2 separate regions of the Homo sapiens genome follow, and region 2 is linked to region 1. The links come from fine-mapping of genetic effects on gene expression. A gene starts in region 1. The other region holds a variant in brackets. All regions are shown on one strand. Distances are from middle to middle.

Region 1 (16,810 bases):
CGCTACCAAGGGAAAGGGAAGGTGTAGAAGTTGTAATGAGAAAATGGAGAACTGTTAACAATGACAGGAGCCTTAGGCAAAGGAAGCTACTGAAATTGAGCCTAAAACTTAGCTATCAGTTTCTTGGCAAAATAAAATAAGATTTCTTAAGTCACAAAAACAAAAACAAAGGACAGATTCAAACCTGGAAAGTTTCTTTCTTTTTTATTATAATATTACTTGTTAATACTTTAAATTTACTTTTCTTCACTATACACCATGATTCTTCATGGGAAGTTTCTTGATGTGAAAAGGAACCACTTCTGTCCTGGCATGGTGGCTCACACCTACAATACTAGTACTTTGGGAGGCCAAGGTGGGAGGATCGCTTGAGCCTAGGAATTTGAGACCAGCCTGGACAACATGGTGAGATCCTGTCTCTATTAAAAACAAAAGCAAAAGCAAAAAGGAACCACTTTTTTAAATGTGGCTACCTCTTGATTGTTCAACTTCATAAATGGGGTAGAGAATTAAGAACAGTGGGTAAACTTGAAAGCTACTTGTATTTAATTTTAAAATGCACTTTCTCATGAACGAGGCCAACGTAAAATTTATAACACTCTAAATAACAAAATTTAAACTGTGGAGACCTGATTGAGGAGAAATTGGGAATTTCATGCAGGTAAGTCCAATGTGAGATTTGCAACACTCAAATAATGAAATTTAAAAATGAAGATCTCACTTAGAAGAAAATGGCAACTAAGAGTGCAAAGCACCAAGCAGATTTTAGCTGTTTTTGTTTGTTTGTTTGAGATGGAGTCTCACTCGTTCACCTAGGCTGGAGTACAATGGCGCAATCTCGGCTCACTGCAACCTCTGCCTCCCAGGTTCAAGCGATTCTCCTGCCTCAGCCTCCTGAGTATCTGGGATTACAGGCGCGCACCACCACACCCGGCTAATTTTTGTATTTTTAGTAGAGATGGGGTTTCACATGTTGGTCAGGCTGGTCTCGAACTCCTGACCTCGTGATCCGCCCTCCTTGGCCTCCCAAAGTGCTGGGATTACAGGCATGAGCCACCGCACCCCGCCTCACCTGTTTTTTTAAAATTAATTATTATTATCTTTTATAGAGACAGAGTTTGATCACGTTGCCCAAGCTGGTCTAGAACTCTTGGGCTCATGCAATTCTCCTGCCTCAGCCTCCCAAACAGTTGGGATTACTGGCACGAGCTACTGTGCTGGGCCCAGATTTAGGTTTTATATCATTTCAAAGTTTGCTGCATACTAGATTCACACTTATCCTGCTTATGAGAATAATAAATAAAAGCAACAAAAAAGTTAAACTGGCACTGGGCACATTGGCTCATGCCTGTAATCCTAGCACTTTAGGAGGCTGAGGCGGGCAGATCACTTGAGGCCAGGAGTTAAAGAGCCTGGGTAACAGGGTGAAACCCCGTCTCTACAAAAATTCAAAAAAAAAAAAAAAATTAGCTGGGTGTGGTGGCGCACACCTGTATTCCCAGCTACTTGGGAGGTTGAGGCAGGAGAATCACTTGAGCCCAGGAGGTGGAGGCTGCAGTGAGCCAAGATCGTGCTACTGCACTCCAGCCTGGGCTACAGGGAGACTGTCTCAAAAAAAAAAAGAAAGAAAAAAAAAGTTAAACTAGCAACTGGCCCTTGTCAACCCCATTTTCATCCATGAAAACGTTAGGATTATAGGATAAGCCCATGCAACAGCCACTGACAATTCTTGGTAAAAAAAACTGATGCAAATGGTCCACACCACTTTTGAAAATAAATATAAAAGTCCTCAAAAAATGGCAGATGGTTCAAGACTTCAGTTTCTCAAAGACAGAAATTTTTGTCTGTTCCACCATTCTCTTTTGCCTCTCCCAAACAAGTGATACATATCTATATTATGACAATATTTCAACCAAACTTTTTTAACGAACACTTCAGGGTTTCATCATAACCTTTACTTCTACTTTAAAACAGCATAAGAAACTATAATTACAGCTGTTTGACAGCTGGGGAAACTGTGACATACAAAGATGAAGTAATGTGCCCAACGTCTGAGTCACTGGCAAATTGAAACACATGTCCTACTCAACTCTTTTATATTCTCTAGCAGCTATTTCCTTTCCTCCTGACATTAGCAAAACAAGCTGACACCATGTAGGTAAAGGTAACCACAAATTTTTTATCAAAGTAGGAAATTTAGGCCGGGCGCAATGGCTCAGGCCTGTAATCCCAGCACTCCGGGAGGCCGAGGTGGGTGGATCACCTGAGGTCAGGAGTTCGAAACCAGCCTGGCCAATATGGTGAAACTGCCATCTCTACTAAATATACAAAAATTAGCCGAGCGTGGTGGCGCACGCCTGTAATCCCAGCTACTCGGGAGGCTGAGGCAGGAGAATCGCTTGAACCCAGGAGACAGAGGTTGCAGTGAGCCGAGATCGCACCACTGCACTTCAACCTGGGCGATAAAGCGAGACTCTGTCTCAAAACAAAAGAAAACCAATAAGCTCCTCCCCTCAACCCCAATTTCTTCAGCTGCTGAAACATTTTCTTTCCACTGCGATCCCCTAAGATTACTGTAGCTATTTCTCCCCAGAGAAAGGAGACAATTCCACTCTGTCTTCTAATCCAGAATCCCTTTTCTCTTTAAACAGGTTATCTCTTTCCAATACCTTGCTTTCTGATGACAGCAACTTCCCAAGACTTCCCCAGATAGTCCCCACAGGCTCTAGAAGCAACCGCCACTTTTCTCTAAACACCAATTGCGGCCCTTGGTTCCCAGCCCCCGTCCCCGGAGTCCGTGCTCTCCTCCCCACTACCCTACCCCACCGCTGCCTCAGGCCCTACCCCCGCGGCGTCGGCAGCTCTGGCTCACCTCGGCCCCTGACAGGAAGGGGTGCGAAGGCCCTGTGATCGTCAGGTAATTGTCATTTCCTCCGGGAAACTGGAAACCAAAAGAAAGTCGCGGGGATAAGTTAGGGGGAGCAGGGAGTCAGCTTGGAGCGATGGCTTTTGACCCTGACATTCTGACAACACTCCCCAAACCCCGCTCTCTCTCCTCTCCCGTCAGTCGCCTCTCCGCCCGGCTTCCCGTCCCTGCTTCAACCCGGTCGGCCGCGTTCTCTCGCCAGCCTTCTTAGCTATCAGGTTCCTACCTCCATCTTCACACAACCGCTCCCACCGTCTCAGACCCTCATCGCTCCCACCGCCCCCACTGGACTCGGAACTGCCGTCACTTCCGCAAGGACGTGTGTTCTCTCTGCTGATTGGAAGGAGCGCCGTGGGGCTGCAGAGAGTCAGGCGCTGGGCTATCGCCCCCTGGAGTTTGGAGGGATAAGGGCATGTAGAAGTGCTAGAAGCGTCCCTGGAGGTGGCGTAGGGTACTCCCGACCTAAGGATGATTCCGGGGAGTGCAATAGAGACGTGATCTGGGCTAGAGGAGCCGGAGGGGCGGGGGAGCGGGGGGAAGGGGGAGAAGAAGAAGATCGGTAGATTGAGTGGCTAGAGAGGTCGGAGGTAAGTGGCTATAGAAGTCGGGCGGACCCGGAACCCAGAGGACGCGACACCATGACTTATGCTTATCTCTTCAAGTATATCATCATCGGAGACACAGGTAACCCTCAGGTGGTTCGCCTTCAAGGCTCGGGCGGGCATTCGAAGCTCCCAAATTGGGTGGCGGGGGCGGGGCTCACTTTGTGGGCTGGGCGATTCGAGACGGGCGGGGCGGTTCGGGGCGGCCGGGGGCGGGGCTCGGGAGCCCCCCTTCTCTGGTCCGGGAAGTCCATACTCTGGAAGGTGTTCCAGGGCTGCGTGATTCCGGGAGTGTGCTTTCTCTTTCAGGTGTGGGGAAGTCATGTCTCCTCCTGCAGTTTACAGATAAGCGGTTCCAGCCTGTCCACGACCTCACAATAGGTAAGTGCATCTACTTGTTCCAGAACAGATGATAAAACCTGACTAGCTAAATTGCTAAAGTGGAAAGTTAGCAGCCTTCAGTGTTCGAAGTAAAAAGTTACCCCTCACTACTTTAAACTAGTCCAAACTTATGTTAATGAAGTGACCAATGAAACGTTGATATGTGGGGAGTAGTGTAAGGGAGAGTATATAATTGAAAGGTAACTTTTTAGAGTGTGAGGTATAGACTCGTCATATAATTTTTTTTCAAATACAATTTGTATGTTTATGGAAAATCCCACGAAAGCATAACTGCTTATTTATGAACTCATCTGTGCTTTGAGGTAAATTAATACCAGCCTTACTTTTAAAAAGTAAACACCAATACATGGACATTTTTTATATTGGTGAAGAAGCAAATTGAGGAGTCATCCCTGCCTTAGAATTAATAGGCAAATAAAACTAAAAACTTTCCTTTTAAATGAAAGAGTGTGTTAACAGTTCCTCAAACGCACTGGCGATCCTGGAAAATATTAACCTTTCCCACACGTTTGTGATAAGGCATGGCCTGAAGAGGCTTTTAACTACCCCCTCTTCGTTATCTCCGTAACCCCAGTCCAAATAAACAACATATATGAAACTAGCTTTCTTGCCATGCAAATGCAGTTTCTAAATAAACCCCTACATCCCCATTCTTACCATATTGCTACTTCCAAGTCCCACCTGTATGGAAACCTGAAGCTACCACTGTTCCTAACGGATTTATTTAGAGTCAAATAATTGATGGGGTTAGAAAAGGATTTGGCAGTATCAACTAAAAGGTATTTTAAAGGGAATATTGAGCGAATTCTCACTTTGCGATAGGGGCTAATGATACAATGCTTAACAAGGCAACAATGCTTAATTGTGCCTCTGGCAATTATTGGAAATGTAAAATGTATTGTTAAAAAAATTAGGTGGGCGTTGTGGCGTGTGCCTGTAAGGTACTTACTTGGGAGGCTGAGGCAGGAGAATCACTTGAACTCAGGAGGTGGAGGCTGCAGTGAGCTGAGATCGCACCACTGCACTCCAGCCTGGGTGACGGAGCGAGACTCCATCTCAAAAAAAAAAAAAAAAAAGTATTGTTTCTGAGAACCTATTTCTTAGGCTCTTTTCTTAAAGAAAAACATCTGGAATTGCAAAAAAATAAATATTGTTTTAAGTAGAGACTAAAGAGTGACTGAGAAAGTGTCAGGAAATATTTCCAAAATTTTTAGTTTTTTGGAAAAGTTACAAAACTAAATGTTACCTAACCAAATTTAAGCATTAACCTAACATTGCTAAAAAAGTATTCACCTTTTTAAATTTGACTTCTTAATTGGTTTTATTTTCCCATATCTGCTTTTTGGTTACATTCCTGAGGTCATTGAGCACAATTTTTTAATTCTAGAAGGGAAATGAAGAACCTTAAGAAACACAAAATTAATTGGAGCAAATAGGCAGCAATAATGGAATTAGTGGCATTGAGTTCAGACAAAGGATGGTTATAACACATTGAGGAAAGGCAGGAACCTCCCACTCCACGTGGCTGCTGTTCGTGAGAATCACATTCTTTCTCTCGGTCTTTACCGACAGGTGTGGAGTTTGGAGCTCGTATGGTCAACATTGATGGAAAACAAATCAAACTGCAAATCTGGGATACGGTGAGAGTACAAAATAATTTAGTCTCTGACCAATATCCAAGTATAACAAGAAAAGCTGATGCAAAGGAAAGGGGCGATGAGGGTGGAACTAATGGTGGGGATAAAGTAGGGGAAAGGTGAAATCAAAGAGAGAAGTTTTTGATTCTGTTACAGTTACAAATTCTGGATGCTGTATCTTTGTGTTGTAAACGATCCAAGTAATAGTTTATTCTAGTAAAAATAAAATCAAACAATATAAATTTATAGAATAGAAAGTAAATGTCCCCTTTTGATACATAAACTCTTTCTCCCTTCCCATCTTGGTTGGTACTCTAGCAGGGAAATCATTACTGATGATTCCACGTGTATGCTTTCAGACTTTTTCTATGCATTTAGATACATACATGTAAACACATAGAAATATATGGTAGTAGTTTTGTTTTTATTAGTGTTTACATGTATAGAATCGTGACAGAGTAGACCTAGTTGTGTGACTTAGATTGTATATTAAACAATCTCTATGTTGTGGGGACCTTTCCATATCAATACATATAGATCTGTCTCATTCCTTTTAACCACTGCGTAGTCATGGAATGTCAGTAGCATGATTTATGTAACCATCATCCTACTGATAGAAATTTGGGTTGTTTTCCAATTTTTAAGTATTGCAGAATTTCACTGAGCATTCTTTTTTTTGAGACAGAGATTCACTCTTGTCACCCAGGCTGGAATGCAATGGCGTAATCTTGGCTCACCGCGACCTCCACCGCCTGGGTTCAAGCAATTCTCCAGCCTCAGCCTCCTGAGTAGCCGGGATTACAGGCACCCACCACCACACGTGGCTAATGTTTTTTGTATTTTTTGTATTTTTTTTCTGAGACGGAGTCTTACTCTGTTGCCCAGGCTGGAGTGCAGTGGCGTGATCTCAGCTCACTGCAAGCTCCGCCTCCCGGGTTCGTGCCATTCTCCTGTCTCAGCCTCCCGAATAGCTGGGACTACAGGCGCCTGACACCACGCCTGGCTAATTTTTTGTATTTTTAGTAGAGAGGGGGTTTCACCGTGTTAGCCAGCATGGTCTCGATCTCCTGACCTCGTGATCCGCCCGCCTCAGCCTCCCAAAGTGCCGGGATTACAGGTGTGAGCCACCACTCCCGGACGTTTTTTGTATTTTTAATAGAGATGGGGTTTTGCCATGTTGGCCAGGCCGGTGTTGAACTGACCTCAGGTGATCCACCCACCTAGGCCTCTCAAAATGCTGGGATTACAGGCGTGAGCCACAGTGCCCAGCCTGAACATCCTTATTTACAAAGTTTTTATGCCAATGTTTGAGAATTTTTGTGGAATATCTGCCCAGAAATGGAAACTCTGTCAAAAGCTTGTACATATTTTCAAATTTGATACATGTAGTAATGCCAAAATTTAGCTTGGCTTAGTGTAGTTTTGCCCTATCCAGATAAATTGCTTTCATGTGCATTATCTCATTTGATTTGTACATTTTTCCCCCTAAGTAAAATAATACCTTAGTCTCCATTCTAGTTAAAGGGAGCTAGTAAATAGCTAGTAAATAATATTTGGCTAAAATCTCTTACTTTTTTTGCTTACTTCTTACTATGTGATTCTGTTTCTTCTCTGAACTGAGAGCTAAAGCCATTATATCTGCAAACAGTGTACACATTATTTTTCCTTTTTTCTTTTCCTCCCTTTCCTCTCCTTCCCTCCCCAATGCTCCTCACCACACGCAAGTGTATGTCTTAAAAGTAGTTGAAGCTTAAGTTCATCTGTCTATCCATCCATCTATCCGTCTATCTCTACAGATCTATCCCCTGATCCCCTGCACTGGGGAATTTTTGTATTTTTTGTAGAGACGGGGGTTTCAACATGTTTCCCAGGCTGGTCTCGAATTCCTGGACTCAAGTGATCCGCCCTCCTCAGCCTCCCAAAGTGTTGGGATTACAGGCCTGAGCCTTGGCACCTGGCCCAGATGAATGTTTTGATGCTGGGGAAAAAAACCCAATAAGTGCCATTTAATGGAATGGTCATGGCAATGGCCTTTTTTTTTTTTTTTTAAGCACTCATATGGGACATGGTTGGATCATGAAAGTAAGAAAGTTGAGAGCTTGATTCTGCTGAGAATGCATACATAGAAAAACAAACAAAAAAGGAAAGTTGAGAGCCACGACTTTGGACAGAATCCTTAAGAACTACATGGTCATCCAACTGGCCTAGTTCTTTTCTGTTCCCTCTTAAAATTGTCTTGAGATTAATATTTGCTAAATCATAAAAAGGAACCAGTTTCAGAACACTGTGGTTTTCTATATATTTTGAAAATTTTAAAAGATTCATACGTATAATAATGTGTCCATCTAGTCTGTCGCCTTTTGGGTAAGTCTGGTCATTTCTCCGTTGTCAGCCCTGATCTCCTGCCCATTGTTTACCCATCTTAGCTTCCCACTTTATTGACCCATTCTCTCACTTACTTCCAAACCCATCCTACATGAAAATGTTTAGGGATTACTGTGATAGGTATTTTAAAGAGATCAGGTTGTCCAAAGGTTTTTGTTGTCTTTGTTCTGGCATTTATGTGGATTTAGAGAAGCATATTTTAAAAAATCGTGTGTGTGTGTGTATACACGTATTCCTAAATAATCATGCTAATGAATAGGTATTTTACTGTAATATAAAATACTGATCAAATAATATCAAATTGGTTTGTATTTTACTTTGGAATGCAATTAAAATTTTTTTTTCCTTAATAAACCGTTCATTGGAAGGAATGCATTTTGATTCTTAGGAAAATGGTGTATCTGACTTTCTAGGAGTTGATACTTCAAACTGTATATCTTAATATAGTATGATGCTTCCACTTGGGAGAGATTAGAAAGCTATTAATTATCTTATCAAACCTTCATCTAGGCCGGGTGTCGTGGCTCATGCCTGTAATTCCAGCACTTTGGGAGGCTGAGGCAGGCGGATCACCTGAGGTCAGGAGTTTGAGACTAGCCTGGCCAACATGGTGAAACCCCATCTCTACTAAAAATAAAAAAATTAGCCAGGTGTGGTGGCGGGCGCCTGTAATGCCAGCTACTGGGGAGGCTGAGGCAGGAGAATCACTTGAACCTGGGAGGCGGAGGTTGCAGTGAGCCAAGATCATGCCACTGCACTCCAGCCTGGGCAACAGAGCGAGACTCCCTCTCAAAAAAAAAAAAGGAAAAAAAAACCTTCATCTTAGTTCGTTGCTGCTGCATCTTTTCTTTTCTTTTTTTTTTTTTTTTGACAGGGTCTTGCTCTGTCACCCAAGCTGGAGTGCAGTGGCACCATCTCCACTCATTGCACCCTCAACCTCCCCGGCTCAACTAGTCCTCCCACCTCAGCCCCTCAAGTAGCTGGGACTACAGATGTGTGCCATCACACCTGGCTAATTTTTTGTATTTTTTTTAGAGGCGTGGTTTCACCATGTTGCCCAGGCTGGTCTCAAACTCCTGAGCTCAAATGATCTGCCCACCTTGGCCTCCCAAAGTGCTGGGATTATAGGCATGACCCACGGTGCCCAGCCTGCTGCTTCAGATTTTTTTACTGGGGATGGCCAAGGATACCTGAGACTGATATAGACAAGACCAAATTGAACTGCTCACTCTTTCTAGCTTACTGGTTCACAAACTTTGGCTCATGAACTGGAATGAGATGAAGTAGAGTGATTTTTTTTTTTTTTTTAATTTAGACAGAGTCTCACTCTGTTGCCCAGGCTGGAGTGCAATAGCGCCATCTTGGCTTACTGCAGCCTCTGCCTCCCGGGCTCAAGCAGTTCTCCTGCCTTAGCCTCCTGAGTAGCTGGGATTACAGGCGTGCGCCACCACGCCCACCTATTTTTTTTTTTTTTTTTTTTTTTTTTTTTTTGTATTTTTAGCAGAGATGGGGTTTCATCATGTTGGTCAGGCTGGTCTCAAACTCCTGACCTCGTGATCTGCCCGCCTTGGCCTCCCAAAGTGCTGGGATTACAGGCATGAGCCACTGCGCCTGGTGAGTGATTTGATTTTAAAAGGTTTTCTCATGACCCACTGATAGCATTTTCAGCTGCTAAAGATAAATGCTGCCATGTGATTGAACCATCATGTGGGCCTCCCTCAAACTTTCCCTTTTAGTTCTTGGTAGGCTGTGAGGGAAGTAGAGGGAGGCTTACAACCATAGCAGAAGAGGAGAAAAAGTAAGTGCTAAAAGGAAAACAAGACCCAAATAACGTAAGACATTAGGGAGTAAATATAAAACTGTAAGTATTTTTTTAATCTTAAAATATTATTAGTATTATGACAGGGGACTTCAGAATTAGTTTTTATTTTCCGATTCTGATTCTCTAACAGCTATGCAACTCACTCACATGTTTCTATGATTCTTATAGAAAGAGATTCTTCTGTTGTTGGAAAATTAACCTTAGAGTTAGTATACTGGAATTCTCTTCTCACCTACAAACCCCAGTTTAGGTTATATGATATAGTGGCTAAGAGGACAAGTTTTTGTCCTAGGAAGTACTAAGATCCTAAGTTTAAATTATGGCTCTAGCACTTAATAAGCTTTATGATTTGGGGCCGTTTATTAAACTTGTGTGAGCCTCATTTTCCCCATTTTTAAAAGGAAATAATAAGCCAGGCACGGTGGCTCATGCCTGTAATCCCAGCACTTTGGGAGGCCGAGGCGGGTGGGTCATGAGGTCAGGAGTTCAAGACCAGCCTAGCCAACATAGTGAAAACCCATCTCTACCAAAAATACAAAAAAATTAGCCAGGCATGGTGGTGGGCGCCTGTAATCCCAGCTAATTGGGAGGCTGAAGCAAGGAGAATTGCTTGAACCTGGGAGGCGGAGGTTGCAGTGAGCCAAGATTGCGCCACTGCACTCCAGCCCGGGCAACAGAGCGAGACTCCCTCTCAAAAAAAAAAAGAAAAAAAAAAAGGGAATAATAATATCGGCCCCAGGGTTGCTAAGAGAAGTAAATGAAATAATATATGTAATTGTCTCTTAAAGTTCGTAGCACATTTTATATGCCAAAAAGTAGTTTATAGTACTATTGCAGTGTTATAATTAGTGTTACCACTGTTACTGGTATTATACTATGAGAAAGCCATTTATTTTCCCACATCCTTAATCATGATTCTCCCATTTGTAACCTATAAATTATAGTCTTACCTCCTGTTATGTAGGGATGTAAGGATAAATTATTTCAAGAATGTGAAAACTTTCTTAATAGGATAGATTCAATGTACAGGGTATTCATATTATTTAAAAAATGTTTTTGTTTTCCCTAAAGGAAAAAAAAAGAACTAGTCCATCAAGAAAGCAAAAGTACCCAGTATTATGGGGGCATTAATAAATTACTCAGTTTTAAATAGAACTTAATATCTTTGTCCAACTGGAAATGAGATTAGAGTGTGAACATTTGGATTTTTCTAGGAAAACTCTATGCTGGGCCCTGGGCTTCTTTCTCTGTTTGTTATTCCTATTTCCCATGACAGAAGCCCAGCAAGGGACATCTAGGTAGTCTTGCATTATCAGTGGAACACTAAAGGTCAGTTAGAAGATAATCAGTTGAAGTGCTTTTAATCTAATTTTTATATTGATTCATTGGAATGAAATTTCTATTAGACCAGGTTTTGGCATTCTAAGATAACTTTCCTTTTTACAGATAAAGAAATGGGAACAGAAAGATTAATATGGTGTGTTCAATATCATATTTGGGATTGAAAAAAATGACATACACTCCGTTTCCAGTCCTATTTCCAGTTGTTCTTTTATGAGGATATTGGGAAATGTATGCAAATGTCTTCATCGTCTTTATCGTGCTGACTGGGGTGCCACAGGTATTTAGTGACTGGGATCTAGGATGCTAAACATCCACTAATCTGATGGACAGTCTCTCAGGAAGAGTAAGTGACTGCCCAAAATATCAATGCACTCCCATAGAAAAATATTGATTTCCCACTTGGGTTTCTTCTCGGGCAGGCATGTTTTCTTTCCCTAATTCTCTTTTCGTAATAGAAATTCTTTTTTTAGTTAAGTCCTTTGTATTAGGGTGGCATGTGATCAAGTCGGTTCTGTGGAAATAACCTGGTTTTGTTGGGATTTTTTGTTGCCATGTTGGTGGGAAAGGCTGGGCAAGAATCCTTCCGTTCTATCACCCGTTCCTACTACAGGGGAGCAGCTGGAGCACTGCTGGTGTACGACATTACAAGGTGAGCCAGATCTGGTGCATGGGAGGGAGATTCTTCCCTAAATCCTCTAAAGCTTTTTTTTTTTTTCTATCTACTGATTCTGTTAAGGATGTTAACTAGGAATGGCCTCTCTAATATTTTTCTTTACACGTATGGCTTCCCCTCTTTTCGTATACGCTTGGAGTTGTTTTGGCCTTTTGAAATGTGTCTCTGACCCACATTCTAAATTTTTCTGCTGTAGGCGTGAAACCTTCAACCACCTGACCTCATGGTTAGAGGATGCCCGGCAGCACTCTAGTTCCAACATGGTTATCATGCTCATTGGGAATAAGAGGTAAAATTGTATCCATGTGAATAATAGTTAACAGGAGTCATCTAGGTACTCTATGCACATTGATCCCCAAACTTTCTCAGTTTATAGTGGTCTTAGTGTTTCAGTAAAAAAAAAAAATTTTGTTGTGATAAAATATATATGACACAAAATTTACCATTTTAACTATTTTTAAGCATACAGTCCTGTAGCATTAAGAATATCCATTGTTCCACAGCCATCACCAACATCCATCTCCAGAACTTTTTCATCTTCTCAAACTCTATACACATTCAACACTAACTCTCCATCTTCCCTCCCCCATCCCCCTCATCCCTCAGCCCCTGACAGCCATCATTCTACTTTATGAATTTGACTACTACTGGTACCTCATACAAGTAGACTCATGTAATATTTGTGCTTTTGTGACTGGCTTATTTCACTTAGCATAATGTCTTCGAGGTTTATCCATATTGTAGCATGTGTCAGAATTTCCTTCCTTTTTAAAGATGAGTAATATTCATTGTATGCATATACCACAATATTTTGTTTATCCATCTGTCCATGGACACTTGGGTTGCTGCCATCCTTTGACTATTGTGAATAATGCTGCTATGAACATGGATCTGTTCAAGTCCCAGCTCTGAATTCTTTTGGGTATATGCCCAGAAGTGGGATTGCTGGATCATATGGTAATTCTTTTATTTTTTGAAGAACCACCATACCATTTTCCATAGCAGCTGTCTCATTTTACATTCTTTCCAGCAATGTACAAGGATTCCAGTTTCTCTACATCCTTAACAACACTGGTTATTATCAGTAAATTTTTTTTGACACCCATAGGCCAAAAGAAATACCTAATAGTTTTGTTAAATAGTTATACCCAAACAACATGAGTATTTTTTATAACCGCTTAGTAACTGTTTGAAAATAAAAAGGCCAGGCGCAGTGGCGTATGCCTGTAATCCCAGCTCTGGAAGGATTGCTTGAGTCCATAAGTTCAAGACCAGCCTGGGCAACATAGTGAGACCTTGTTTATACAAAAAAATTTTTAAATGAGGTGGGAGGATCACTTGGGCCTGTGAGGTCGAGGCTGCAATGAAGCTGTAATTGTACCACTGCACTCCTGCCTCAGCAACAGGAGTGAGACCCTATATAAAAAAAAGAAAAAATATGCCAGGCGTGGTGGCTCAAGCCCGTAATCCTAGCACTTTGGGAGGCCGAGGTGGGTAGATTAGAAAGTCAGGAGTTCAAGACCAGCCTGGCCAATATGGTGAAACCCCGTCTGTACTGAAAAAATACAAAAAGTAGCCAGGCGTGGTGGCACGCACCTCTAGTCCCAGCTATTTGGGAGCTTGAGGCAGGAGAATTGCTTGAACTCGGGAGGCGGAGGTTGCAGTGAGCTGAGATAGTGCCACTGCACTCCAGCCAGGGCGACAGAGTGAGACTTTGTCTCAAAAAAAAAAAAATTATTTCATTCTTAAATAGCAACAGTTACTTACTAAAGACCTCTATGTGTCTGTTGGGCACTGCATAGCTTCTCAAACCTTGGAATCACGATTGCACACTGCTACTCTCATTTCCCATTTCATATTGATTTTTGTGTAGTGCTTGCTTTTTTATAACAGCAACTGCCAGAAACAGCTTCTCAGAGATATGAAGATATTGAACGAATTTTATCATGGTCTGATATTGACATTGCAACTGTCTTAAGCTTGTAATTCATGTAGTAAGTATCCTTGTGTTGAGTGTTACTGTGTTTTTCTCAAAAGTTTGAGGTATCCCATGGCACCCTTGTGAGTTTGTAGTAGTGCCCAGAGTGTACTATTTGAGAACTGTGGCCACAGGCTAATTGGTTTTTTGTTTGTTTGTTTGTTTTCATTTGTTTGTTATGAGATGGAGTTTCACTCTTGTCACCCAGGCTAGAGCACAATGGCATGATCTCGTCTTACTGCAACCTCCACCTCCTGGGTTCAAGCGATTCTCCTGCCTCAGTCTCCCGAGTAGCTGGGATTACAGGCATGTGCCACCAAGCCCAGTTAATTTTTTTGTATTTTTAGTATAGACGGGGTTTCTCCATGTTGATCAGGCTGGTCTTGAACTCCTGACCTCAGGCGATCCGCCTGCCTCGGCCTCCCAAAGTGCTGGGATTACAGGCGTGAGCCACCACACCCATCCTGCTAATTATTTTTAGTGTATCAGTCAATGTATTGAAAACGACTGTGCCAGATTCTGAGTTTGCAAGGTGGAAAAAAGTCGTCCCCCTGCTCTTGTGCAGCTTACAGTCTAGTGGGGGCATAGATGTTAAATATAAAATTATTTGTATCAAATTGTAAATTGTGATAAATGCAATGGAGGAAAAAGGGTGCTACGAAAGAATAACAGGGTACCTACTTTTGATTAGGAGTGATATTAAGCTGGGATCTGAAGGATGGGCAAGAGCCTGCTGGGCAAAGATTTTTTTAAAAGGGTATTACTTGGGGGGAACAAACTATACAAACACCTTGAACTTGGAAGAAGCTTGACACGTTTATTGAAAGAAACCTAGTGTGATTGGACTAAATCAAGAGGGAATAGTGCAAGATGAGGTTGGAAAAGTAGGTAGGGACCAGATTTTATAGCACCTTAGAGGCCTGAGTAAGGGTTTTGGATTTTATTCTAAATACATGGAAATTGAAGCTTGGGAGATGGGGGATTAAAAATAATAATAAATAAATACACCTGAAGCATTTTAAAGTTTTAAGTAGAGAAGTGGCTTGATCAGATTTTAAAAGATCACTCTGGAGGAGAACAAGGACTGAAGTAGTATCCCAGTTGCAATAGTCCACATGAGAAAGAATGGTAGCTTGGTCTAGGAAGTGACCCTGGAAAGAGAAAGAAAGGATAATTTTAAGGTACATATTGGAAGTACTTCACTTTGGAATGGATTAGATATTTGGAGTAGGGAGCAAAGGGTATCAATAATAACACTTTGGTTTTTGGCTTATGCCATTTACTGAGATACAGAAGCCTGCAGCAAACACAGGCTAGGGGAAAAGAAGTTCCATTTTGATGTGTTAAGTTTGAAGTCCGTTTTATGTATCAGTGTGGAAATGAAGAATTCACAAATGTACAAATCTGGTGCTTAGTCAAGCATCTGGGCTAGAGGTACAAATTTGGGAGGGTTGACATTTAGATCTTCCCTGGTCTTCACACAGCTGATGGTATAATAAATTAAAATATTGTAGATTTGTTGTTCTTTAATGGTCTTACACTTTTTTTCCAAGGAGTTGGAAAACTGGAAACCTCCCAAATGAAAATTTTCAAATTGAAAAATACGAATCACAAACAGCCCAACCTTGCCTTATTCTTCAGTTTGTTTTTTTGGTTTTGTTTTTTTTTTGCGACAAGGTCTCGTGCTGTTGCCCAGGCTGGAGTACAGTAACGTGCTCAGCTCACGGCAACCTGTTTCCAGGGCTCAAGAGATCCTCTCACCTCAGCCTCTCACGTAGCTGGGACTACAGGCATGTGTCACCACGCTCTGCTGATTTTTAAATTTTTGTAGAGACAGGGTCTCACTGTATTGTGCAGGCTGTTCTTAAACTCCTGGGCTCAAGTAATCCTCCTGCCTCAGCCTCCCACAGTGCTGGGATTATAGGCATGAGCCACCACGCCCAGCTCTGCAGCCTTTTATCCTGTTTTTCATAAGGTCTTTTGTTGCCATTTTTATTCCCTTTTTCAGTCCTTAGCTCTTATCTTTTTTTTCACCTAATTTTATCCATATCACTGTCTCTGAATTCCCTGGTGGCAAGCTGCTTTTATATGCACTAGTAACGAAACCAGTGAGACTTAAGACAACTGTGTTTTCCTTATTCCTGGCTCATTCTCTTCTTGTGGCTTGATTCCAGTAAAAAAGGAAGATGCTCATCACTGCTGGATGGGACATCTTATGACTTTTCTGCTTTCTAGTAACTAGAGTTTTCCTTTTTTTCTTCCCCGCCCAAGAGACAGTCTTGCTCTGTCGCTGAGGCTGGAGTGCAATGGCGCGATCTCAGTTTACTGCAACTTCCGCCTCCCATGTTCAAGCAATTCTCTTGCCTCAGCCTCCCGAGTAGCTGGGATTACAGGCACCTGCCACCATACTCAGCTAATTTTTGTATTTTTAGTAGAGACGGGATTTCACCATCTTGGCCAGGCTGGTCTTGAACTCCTGAACTCGTGATCCACCTGCCTCGGCATCCCAAAGAGCTGGGATTACAGGCATGAGCCACTGTGCCCAGCCAAGTTTTTTTTTTTCCTCATCTATACTTTGCTCTCCTTGATCTCATTGGAAAAACAAGCAATAGAGCATAAGCTTTGTGTAACTATGGGGGCTTGCCTAACCCTTGATAAGCCATTTTCTCTGTAATAGAGTGAGGTATTATCTTCAACTATGCAGCAGCTGTCCCAAAACTAAAGAATATTTTCCAAGATGCTACAAAAATCAGTAACTCTGTATAAGAGTATCATGTAGGATCTACATTCTTTATGAAATAACTGGCAGTTGAAACCACGACGGAATTCTTTTAGAAATAGACTTTCCTCTTTCACTTGGATCTTTTTTTTAAATTTTCTCCTTAATTAATCTCTTGCAGTGACCTAGAGTCCCGCAGGGATGTGAAGAGAGAAGAAGGAGAGGCCTTTGCTAGGGAGCATGGACTTATATTCATGGAAACTTCAGCCAAAACAGCCTGCAATGTTGAAGAGGTACTATTTGGAAAACAGTGGGGAAAGCT
Region 2 (10,912 bases), 64 kb after region 1:
AGGGATAAAGGAGCTTTAATTTCCAATATCCAGGTTTACCCCTAAACACTGGAGCAAGATGAGTGAAGAAATATGCCTGTTATATTTGCGGCGTTCATCCTTGATAAGAGTAGTTTTGGTTGTATGTTGCAAGTAGAAGAAAAAGTGGAATGGATGGACAAGTGAAAGAGATGAAGGAATGGAAATAGCATGTGTTTAAACCCTTGAAAAAGTTTAGGTATGGGGCCGGGCGCAGTGGCTCATGCTTGTAATCCCAGCGCTTCAGGAGGCCAAGGCAGGCAGATCACTTGAAGTTAGGAGTTTGAGACTAGCATGGCCAACACGGTGAAACCCCGTCTCTACTAAAAATACAAAAATTAGCCGGTCATAGTGGCGGGCACCTGTAATCCCAGCTACTCGGGAGGCTGAAGCAGGAGAATCACTTGAACGTAGGAGGTGGAGGTTGCAGTGAGCCAAGATCGCTCTACTGCACTCCAGCCTGGATGACAGAGCAAGGCTCTACCTCAAAAAAAAAAAAAAAAAGGTTTAGGTATAAAGCAGAGTAGAAAAATAGTTGCGGGAGTTGTAGAATAAAAAGAGGTCTTATTTTAAAATGTGAAATGTGGAACATATACGTGTATTTATGGCAATGACTCGGTAGAGGGATTCCTAAGAATACAAGAAGCAATGAACAGCAGAGCATATATGGAGAGAAGGACCTCTGTTAGAAAGAGACACTCACTGGTAGCAGGTGAGAAGTCAGGTATAGACCCTGGTAAATTCATAGGATTTGCTGTTATGAAAAAGGAGAACACCCATCGGATAGCTTCTAATTTCTTTAAAAATTTTGAAGTAGGATTCTCTGCTAAAGGTGAGGTAGAGGAGTGGGTTTACTGGACAGTGATCTTTTGGTCTTATTGTTTGGTTTCCTAACTCATCTAGGATGAAGAGCCCTTTAATCCAGACTACGTAGAGGTGGATAGGATATTGGATGAGTCTCACAGTATTGACAAGGACAATGGGGAGGTGAGTTGTTGAGGCATGGAGTAACGTGAACATCCTCTTAGATTTCTGCTGGTGGGTTTGCCAATCCTTTATTTTTCGGGTATGGATGCAGAATCCCTTGGACTGAAAAGGTATTTCTAAATTTTTCTGTGGAATCCTTTGAAAGATAATGGGAGGTAAGAGTGTAGGGAGAGATGCTAAAAGGAAAGATTTCTGTAAAGTCAGACATGTAGAGGCTAAGTACTGAAAAGTCATTCATCTTGGTCTCATTTTTCCTCATATTTTAAATGGGAGACTCTTGACATACAGTTGGAGGTGGGGTGTTGGGAAGGGGAAAGGGATACTTCACAAATTCCTAAATTTGTGAATATAAAAATACTTCTACAGGCTCGCTCCTAGCTTTCTACAAATCATGTTCTTGAGAATGGGCTACTTCCTGAACTCACCATTAGTTAAATGTCTCTTCATTTGTCATTAAAACAGATCTGCTGGCCAGGCGCGGTGGCCCACACCTGTAATCCCAGCACTTTGGGAGGCTGAGGTGGGCAGATCACGAGGTTGGGAGTTTGAGACCAGCTTGGCCAACATAGTGAAACCCCGTCTCTACTAAAAATACAAAAATTAGCCAGGTGTGGTGGCACGTGCCTATAGTCCCAGCTACTCGGGAGGCTGAGGCAGGAGAATCGCTTGAACCCGGGAGGCAAAAGTTGTGGAGAGCCAAGATCATGCCATTGCACTCCATTCCTGGGCAACAGAGTGAGACTCCGTCTAAAAAAAACAAACAAACAAAAAAGCAGATCTACATTTGAATCTGTATTTTAATTAGTTTATTTTTCTCTTTTTTCTTTTTCTTTTTTTTTGGTTTTTTTTTGAGACCATCTTCACTCTGTCACCCAGGTTGGGGTGCAATGGTGTGATCTTGGCTCATTGCAACCTCCGCCTCCCAGATTCAAGTAATTCTCATGCCTCAGCCTCCTGAATAGCTGGGACTGCAAGCGTGTGCCATCATGCCCGGCTAGTTTTTAAATTTCTAGTACAGACAGGGTTTCACCATGTTAGCCAGGCTTAGTCTCGAACTCCTGACCTCAAGTGATCTCCCTGCCTCGGCCTCCCAAAGTGCTGGGATTACGGGCGTGAGCCGCCTACGCCTGGCACCTTTTTCATTTTCAAATGGTCATCTAGGTCTTAGCCACCAGTGAATTCAGCTTTCTTTTAAATTTACTTCTAATTTTTTTTTAGGCTATAAACCATCATTTTCTTAGAATTTGTCACTTTATATTTTTCCTTCCAGTAGCACTTTTTGGTTTAGCTTAGCAGGATCATAAAGAAAATTTCTATCACATCTGACACTTTATACAGTGACCAGTAGAGAACAGCAGAGCCTTTTTAAGATGTTAATGTTCAGTGGGTGAGCTGGGCTTTTTCATGACTTTTTCAAGTGACTTGATCCTCCCATACATCATTCTAACAGGACCTCTGAGTTAAATTCTTTCCTCTATAAAATTCCGAAGTTTATTCTACTTTATAAGTCTTCAGGTTCACTCAGAGCCTCAGAATCTTAGATATCCAGGACACGGTAGAATTCATTGTCTTTAAATCCTAACAAGCATGCTTCACATAACGTATTCTGCTTTTGAAGTTGGGGTGGTAGTATTGTGTGTTTGTTTGTGTGAGTTGAATGGAGAATGGGCCGGGTTTTAGGGCAGGTTGTTAGCTACTCTTAAATTCTTATCATTTTTCAGGATCTCAGCCTTTCCAGCCTTGACAGTCTTATGCTTTTAATCATACCTACCCTTCTAAAAGCAATTGGCCTTTAGTTAGGCCCCTTTGGAATGTCTTGCAAATGACGTGACAGATGATAATGTTTTCATACTCTAATACTATAATTTATGCTCCCAGTATTGGCTAATACTATTCTATATACCCATTTTCCCCACCTCTGCAAAATAAGTTTGTCATCCATTTTATATTACCTAATGGTGGAAATAAATAGATATTATGCTGGAAATATGTGACCTGGACAAATGGCTTTATATAGAGAGTGACCTGAGTTACTATGATAAAGAAAAAGGTAAAAGAGCAAGCAGCTGGATCAATTCCAGAGATTCGAGATCTGTGACTACCTTGAGGCACTTTCACATATTTTGTTGGCTATTTTAAGTTTTCTATGAATTGATAATTAGAGATTCTTGTTGATTACACTAGGCCCAATCTAATCCTTGCTTTATACTTCATAAGCCAAAAATGGAGATGCAGTAAGTGCAGTGATCATCTTGAATAGTGAAAATAGGAGCCATTTACCATTGGTCACTGCCCCTTCACTTTCAGTGGAATACCTACATAAACTAGTACTTACTGTAGTTGAACTTTTTAGCATTTTCTCTTCCTTCTTTACTCTTAGTACCTCTTTTTGGTGATAACCTCTTGTTAGCTCCTAGCTTCCTGGGGCTCACAAGGACATTTCTTTATCACCATGTAAGTGCTCTTGAGGTGCATCTGCAATGAGCTCTAGGGGCCCAGAAGCCAGTATAAGCTGATAGTCCTCATCCTAAAGGTAGCCTAGCTGCCACTGTGTCAAATTTGGCTCCAGGAGAATAGTATGGCACAGAAACATATCTTTTAATTTCAACATGGTATAGGAAAAGATTAGTCTTTTTTTTTTCATCTGTTTAGTTGACGAGCATGTTTTAGTGCTTAGTGTGATAGAAACTAGTGGGTAGAAATTTTCCTTTTAGAACAGATTCTGATAAATTGCTTTGAAGAATGATCAAAGCCATATAGTGCATCAGAAGGTGAACTTTTGGTCGATGTGTTTGGCCTGACTTTTTCAACGGCTTCTAGGTACTGATACTTTGTGATCTGATTTTACAATCAAATTTTTATTCTTTAACTGGAGCAGAGAACACAGAATCAGTTTCTTAAGGCTTTGGTTTCTTCTCTCCTAGCCCGTTATTTACTACCTGGTGAAATGGTGCTCTCTGCCCTATGAGGATAGCACATGGGAGCTAAAAGAAGATGTTGATGAGGGCAAGATTCGAGAATTTAAACGGATTCAGTCAAGGCACCCAGAACTCAAAAGGGTGGTAAGTACATTTGCATTAAAGTATAAAGGCCTACATAAGAAATGATTAAATTTTTTCCCCTATGAAATTTTTTGTTGTTTTAGCTTTTTATTATGGAAATTTCAAACATATAAAAATCGAAGAAATGGTATAATGTACCCATCACCCACGTAACAATTATCAGTACATATCCAGTCTTGTGTCATATATTTTCCTACCCATTAATTCCTGTTTCCCAGGTTATTTTAAATCAAATCCCAGATTCATTTATTTCATCTGTAAATATTACAGTGTTTTTGCCTAAAAGAAATAATACCATTATTACACCTAAAAAATTTAATCATTCTTTAATATCATCAAGTCATTGGTACCA[A/G]TCATTGCATACATTTCCCTGATTGTCTTCTAATTTTTGTTAAATCATTTAAATTTGGTTCTCAGTAAGGTCCATATATTGCTATCAGTTAATATGTCTCAAGTTTCTTTTAAGCTCCCCCTTAATCTCCTCCTCTCCCTCCGTTATAATTTTCTCATGAAGAAATCAGGTGATTTGTTTTGTAGGATTTTCCATAGGCTGAAGTTTGCTGATTACCCTTGGTACTTTTTTACATGTTCTCTGTCCCTTATGTTTCACATGAATGCTTAGGTTTAGAGCTACACTGTCCAATAAAACATTTTAGAGCTGTGCTGTCTAATACAGTAGCCACTAGCCGTGTTTTTTTGTTTGTTTTTTTATTTTTAATGTTGTAGAAAGCTCTATTAGACATCACTGTTCTACAGGCTTGATCAGATGAGAGAGGGAAGCCAGTAACTGCTTCATAGATGGTGGTGTGTCCTTCCATCAGGTTGTGTTTTGTGATGTTGTCAGCCATTTGTGATCATTATGGACCCATAAAGTAACGTTATGAACTCATAAATTTAAATATATTTGACATGTTTTAATCCAAACAATGTTGTTTTGAATTGATTTTAACTATTAGAACTTACCTAGTAAGTCTTACCTTTTGATAATGTCTCCACTCCATTTATTCAAACGTCTTGTTTTTTAGAATCGTCCGCAGGCAAGTGCCTGGAAGAAATTGGAGCTATCACATGAATATAAAAACAGAAACCAGCTACGGGAATATCAGTTGGAAGGGGTTAATTGGCTGCTCTTTAATTGGTATAACAGGTAAAGGAAAGAATGGGCCATAAGATGTAAGCTTAGTTCTGGGATTATTTTTATTTGTTTTCTATTGAAACAATTTCTTCCTACATACTCTATTTTTTTTAAAGATAGTATCTTTTAACATTTTTTTTTTCCCATGGTGAATCTGCAGGCAGAACTGCATCCTGGCTGATGAGATGGGATTGGGCAAAACTATTCAGTCCATTGCCTTCTTGCAGGAAGTATATAATGTGGGCATCCATGGTCCCTTCTTGGTCATTGCCCCACTGTCCACAATTACTAACTGGGAGCGAGAATTTAATACATGGACAGAAATGAACACTATTGTGTACCATGGCAGTCTGGCCAGCAGGCAGATGATTCAACAGTATGAAATGTACTGCAAAGATTCACGGGTGAGTTGCATGTCTTGGGAATACTATGAGTTAGAGAAAGTCGGCCAAGGTACCTGGTATTTTAAGGGCTATATATGAATAGAAGACTTTTATTGAAAGTCTTCAATATGCCTATGCAAAAATGCCTATGGTTTAAGGCATTTTTGTATAGCAGTGTGCAGGGCATTTTTTTGACTTTGCTATTTTTTTTACCTAGTAGACATTTGATCTGGTAGAAGTTCTGATTTTATTTATGAACATACACATTTTAAGTAGAATTTTGTCAGCATCAATGAATTTTAATCACAGTATTTTACAAAAATTAAATTCCTTTAGCCACTTAATCCATGCGGTGGTGAGCTTATTTCTTTTCCTCTTTTTAGTCTACGGAAATTTTCATCAAGATCAGTTTCTTTTTCTAAATGGTCGGGCGTGGTGGCTCATGCCTGTAATCCTAGCACTTTGGGAGGCCGAGGTGGGCTTATTACCTGAGGCCGGGAGTTCTAGACCAGCCTGGCCAACATGGTGAAACCCCATCTCTACTAAAGATATAAAAATTAGCCAGGTGTGGTGGTGGGCACCTGTAATCCCAGCTATTCAGGAGGCTGAGGCAGGAGAATCGCTTGAAACCAGGAGGCGAAGGCTGCAGTGAGCCGAGATCGTCACACTGCACTCCATCCTGGGTGACAGAGTGAGACTGTGTCTCAAAAAAAGAAAAAAAAAGGATCAGTTCCTTTTTCCATGTAAATTTGAAAACAAAATTGGAATTATCCATCGTGTATTAACATGAATTTTATTGTTTCTCTATTAGTTTTCTTTTTTTTATTTCTACCAAATCACATCTTTTCATCATATTTTGCAGCTTTTAATTTTGTTAAAATGATTTCATTCTTTTGTCAATTTTTAGACATCAGCCAATATTATGTTCTGTATTAGCTATTTTCATTTTTATTATCTTGTATGGTTCAGCATTGTCCAGCAGTTGTGGATTTCATTGTTAATCAACAAAAGATCTGGGGCAGAGATACATGAGCTAGGCATACAGCAGAGTAAAAAATGTCTAGCCTCTCATTCAGTGAGTCTGTCATTTTCCCAAGAAGCTGAATATGTTGAGGAAGCAATGTATCTTACATTCAGTGATATGGCACTATTTTTCAGGAAGATAAACAGCGGTGGAGGTGGGTGGTGGTGCAGTTTGTATTGCCTATTAAACATGCCTTAATATAGGCAAGTAATTCAGAAAAGCTCCTCATTTAGGTACATTTTTGGTTTTTTCTGACTTTACTGCCTTCATGCTTAGGGACGCCTCATCCCAGGCGCATACAAGTTTGACGCTCTGATCACCACTTTTGAGATGATTTTGTCAGATTGTCCTGAGCTTCGTGAAATTGAATGGCGTTGTGTTATCATTGATGAAGCCCATCGACTGAAAAACCGTAATTGCAAGCTGCTTGATAGTCTCAAGCACATGGACCTGGTGAGTTCCACACTGACTTGTGAGCAGAAACACCTGGAATAAACCGTAATTCCTTGCGGTATTAAAATAACCCTAGTTTAGCAGAGAAGAAAAGTCTGAATCGTGGTATTGAACAGTGGGGATGACCTATGGGAATGGTAACCTGAAAGTCGTGTAAAAGTCATACATTTTAGAATTGGGAAGTTTAGTGATAACCAGAAGAGGAGGTGGGAAACTATATTGGTTACCTATTATTACTGCATAACAAAATACTCCAAAACTTAATGTCCTACAACAACTATATTTTTCATGATCTTCTAGCTCAACCACTTAGGCTGAGTTCAGCTAGTTGGTTCTTATGATGATCTTGCCTGGAGTCAGTATTGCTGCAGCTGGCAGTTGATGCTGGTTTTTATCTGGAGCACCTGGGTTCCACATGGCCTCTCATCCTCCATAGGCCAGATTGGGCTGCTTTGTGTGGTAGTCTCAGGGCAGTATTCCAAGAGGGCAAAAGTAGAAACAGTAACCTTTGAGATAGGCTCTGAAACTCACACAGTGTCACTTTTGCTACATTCTTGTTCTTGCAAGTAATAAGGCAAGCCTAGGGGTGAACCTTGTTAGGAGGAACAGCAGCAAATTAATGACCATATTTAATCCAGCTCAGTTACATTCCATAGAGGACAGCAGATTTTAGGATATCTGTGGGGAGTTGAATATGGAGAGACATGTGTAATTGGAATAAACATAATCAGAATTACTGTTTTTTAATTTGCTTATAATATTTATGTTATTTCAATACATTAATGTCAGAGGGATTTCTTGAATGCTTTGTGTTTATCGAAAGAGGGGACAAATGGAAGAAAAATTAATGGACCAGATCACTGGTCCATTCTCATCATTTTATAGATAAAGAAATTAAAGGTTATATATGTTAAAGATTATATACTTGATAGGAAACCCCAGAAGTCCTTCATGTTTTTAAATTTTATTCTTTTGTTTCCTCCATTTCTAGGAACACAAGGTGCTACTCACAGGAACACCATTGCAAAATACTGTAGAAGAACTGTTTAGCTTGCTTCATTTCTTGGAACCGTCACAATTTCCCTCAGAATCAGAGTTTCTCAAGGACTTTGGGGATCTCAAGACAGAGGAACAGGTAGGAAATCTATCTGATGAGGTACTAACTCAGGACAAAGAAGGTGAAGTTTGTACAAGGCAGACATCTGTTGTCATGGGTATCTCAAGGGCCTTTCTGAACTCCTTATAACCTTGTGCCTACATCATTTGTGGCATCATCCAAAGTATACATTTCTTAGATAGTGGAAAACTCTAATTTTTCCATGTTTCTACATAATGTGAGAATGTTCGCCCTCATCTTATTGATTTATTTTTCTCTCTGTAATGGACCACAGGTTCAAAAGCTACAGGCCATTCTTAAGCCAATGATGCTGAGAAGACTCAAAGAGGATGTTGAAAAAAACTTGGCACCCAAACAGGAAACAATTATTGAAGTAGAGCTGACTAATATCCAGAAGAAATACTATCGGGCTATTTTGGAGAAGAATTTCTCCTTCCTTTCCAAAGGGGCAGGTCATACCAACATGCCTAATCTACTTAACACAATGATGGAGTTGCGCAAGTGCTGCAACCACCCATATCTCATCAATGGTGAGGGAATGCTTGGTATATACCTGAACTTCTGTAGTACCTGTGTTTACTTTCCGGATGATTCTCCTTGGGGACAATGGATGCATTGACTCAACCAACCTAATTTGGGGTGCGGACTGAGGAATGGGAGGGAAATGGTTCTCCTTTTAAAAAAGAGACTCTAAGCCTGGGCAACATGATGAAATCCCACCTCTACAAAAAATACAAAAATTAGCCAGGTGTGATGGCAGGCATCTGTGGTTCTAGCTACTTTGGAGACTGAGCTTGGAGGATTGCTTGAACCCAGAAGGCAGAGGTTGCAGTGAGCCGAGATCACACCACTGCACTCCAGCCTGGGTGACAGAGTGAGACCCTGTCTCCAAATAAAGTAAATAAAAACAATTCTTATTTGGAATGTTTTTCTGTAGTTCTTTCTACCCCTTTGATCCTACATAATCTCCAAGATTAAATAGGATTTGCTGTTTAGAATTGCATGAAGAAGAACTCAGATTAGCCACACAGTGGCATGTACCTGTAGTCCCAGCTACTTAGGAGGCTGAGGCAGGAAGATCGGTTGAGCCCATGAGTTTGAAGCTAGCCCTGTCTCAGAAAAAACACTCTTAGGTTACTCTGTTCCTTGGATAAATGTCCTCATCGACACTCCATTTTGCTGTTTCTGTCTCTTTTGGGTGCTGATAGTGTGTTCCATCTTAGTCCTTGTCCACATATTTACATCTTTTTTTAACCCAGTTATCATAGGCCTGCCTTACTTAGTGTATTTTGTATGACACATCTGAGGATGATTTAAGTTTTTTTTTTTTTTTTTTTTTTAAGATGGAGTTTCACTATTGTCGCCCAGGCTGGAGTACAGTGGTGCAATCTCGGCTCACTGCAACTCTGCCTCCCAGGTTCAAGCAATTCTCCTGCCTCAGCCTCCCAAGTAGCTGGGATTACAGGCGCCTGCTACCACACCCAGCTAATTTTTTGTATTTTTAGTAGAGACAGGGTTTCGCCACATGGGGCAGGCTGGTCTCGAACTTCTGACCTCAGGTGATCTGCCCGCTTCGGTCTCCCAAAGTGCTGGGATTACAGGCGTGAACCACTGAACCCGGCTGATTTTTTTTTTTTTTTAAGGTGGAGTCTCGCTCTGTCACCCAGGCTGGAGTGCAGTGGCGCAATCTCAGCTCACTGCAACCACCACCTCCCGAATTCAAGCGATTCTCCTGCCTCAGCCTCCTGAGTAGCTGGAACTACAGGCCTCCGCCACCACACCTGGCTAATTTTTGTATTGTTAGTAGAGACGGGGTTTCACCATGTTGGCCAGACTGGTCTCGAACTCCTGACCTCAAGTGATCCACCTGCCTCGGCCTCCCAAAGTGTTGGGATTACAGGCATGAGCCACCGTACCCAGCCGATTTAAGACTTTTTTGTGCTGAAATTCTGTGTGTGAGAAATGTTGGTCTTAAGTCAAATTACATTTTTTTCCTTTTGCTTTCTTAGTTAAATAGACTACAACCTTAATATGGTTCACTGGATCTCAACATAATTTGATTTTTCTTTTGGCAGGTGCTGAAGAAAAAATCCTAACAGAATTCCGTGAAGCTTGCCATATTATACCTCATGACTTTCACCTGCAGGCCATGGTTCGTTCAGCCGGCAAACTGGTTCTTATTGACAAGTTGCTTCCAAAGCTTAAAGCTGGTGGCCATAAAGTTCTGATCTTCTCTCAGATGGTGCGCTGCCTAGACATCCTAGAGGATTATTTAATCCAGAGGAGGTAAGAAAAGAGTCATCCTAGCCTGTGGTTACTCTGTCCTCATAAAGCAGCAAAAAGTAGGAGGGCCTGGATTTAATTAGAGTTCACCAATTGCAATAAGAGAAGTTTTTAAGATTCTCACTCTCAACTTGGGTTTTTGACCAGCTTTGATATGGGAGTACTGGTATTGATCCTAGCCTGCTGTTTTGGTCTCCACTTCTGCTTAGCCACTTACATTTTTTTTCTGCGATTCCCATACAGGTACTTATATGAACGTATTGATGGGCGAGTTAGAGGCAACCTTCGACAGGCTGCCATTGACCGCTTCAGCAAGCCTGACTCAGACCGCTTTGTCTTCTTACTGTGTACCCGGGCTGGTGGACTTGGTATTAATCTTACAGCTGCTGATACCTGCATCATCTTTGATTCAGACTGGAATCCACAAAATGACCTGCAGGTAAAGGAATT

Alleles and levels. Alleles are on the strand shown, and positions count from the first base shown. SD is a standard deviation of normalised expression in the study named.
As copies of A replace G in region 2, the expression in CD4 T cells of the gene that starts at base 3,242 in region 1 goes down (large effect, 1.5 SD a copy in BLUEPRINT).

What was found. PIP is the estimated chance that this variant, and not a neighbour inherited with it, causes the effect. A credible set is the group of variants that fine-mapping cannot tell apart.
Region 2: its variant is the best candidate, but not a certain one, in a credible set for the expression of TOX4 in CD4 T cells (BLUEPRINT, PIP 0.90).

The regions. Positions count from the first base shown.
Region 1 is chr14:21,463,627-21,480,436 of GRCh38, reverse strand. It overlaps TOX4 (TOX high mobility group box family member 4), which reads right to left and starts at 3,242. Exons shown (of 9, transcript NM_014828.4): 1 at 3,153-3,242; 2 at 2,873-2,941. The coding sequence starts at 3,158. It overlaps RAB2B (RAB2B, member RAS oncogene family), which reads left to right and starts at 3,478. Exons shown (of 8, transcript NM_032846.4): 1 at 3,478-3,610; 2 at 3,838-3,909; 3 at 5,503-5,570; 4 at 11,685-11,767; 5 at 11,988-12,080; 6 at 16,670-16,781. The coding sequence starts at 3,565. LOC124903283 (a long non-coding RNA gene) reads right to left here. Exons shown (of 2, transcript XR_007064064.1): 2 at 14,567-14,920. RefSeq lists enhancers at 3,292-3,361, 3,942-4,061.
Region 2 is chr14:21,403,006-21,413,917 of GRCh38, reverse strand. CHD8 (chromodomain helicase DNA binding protein 8) reads left to right here. Exons shown (of 38, transcript NM_001170629.2): 10 at 922-1,005; 11 at 3,930-4,067; 12 at 5,093-5,214; 13 at 5,363-5,606; 14 at 6,886-7,062; 15 at 8,054-8,197; 16 at 8,454-8,709; 17 at 10,255-10,465; 18 at 10,706-10,901. Among named protein-coding and RNA genes, the nearest start is that of SNORD8, 11 kb to the right of the region's middle. The variant A/G (reference allele first, on the strand shown) is at 4,420.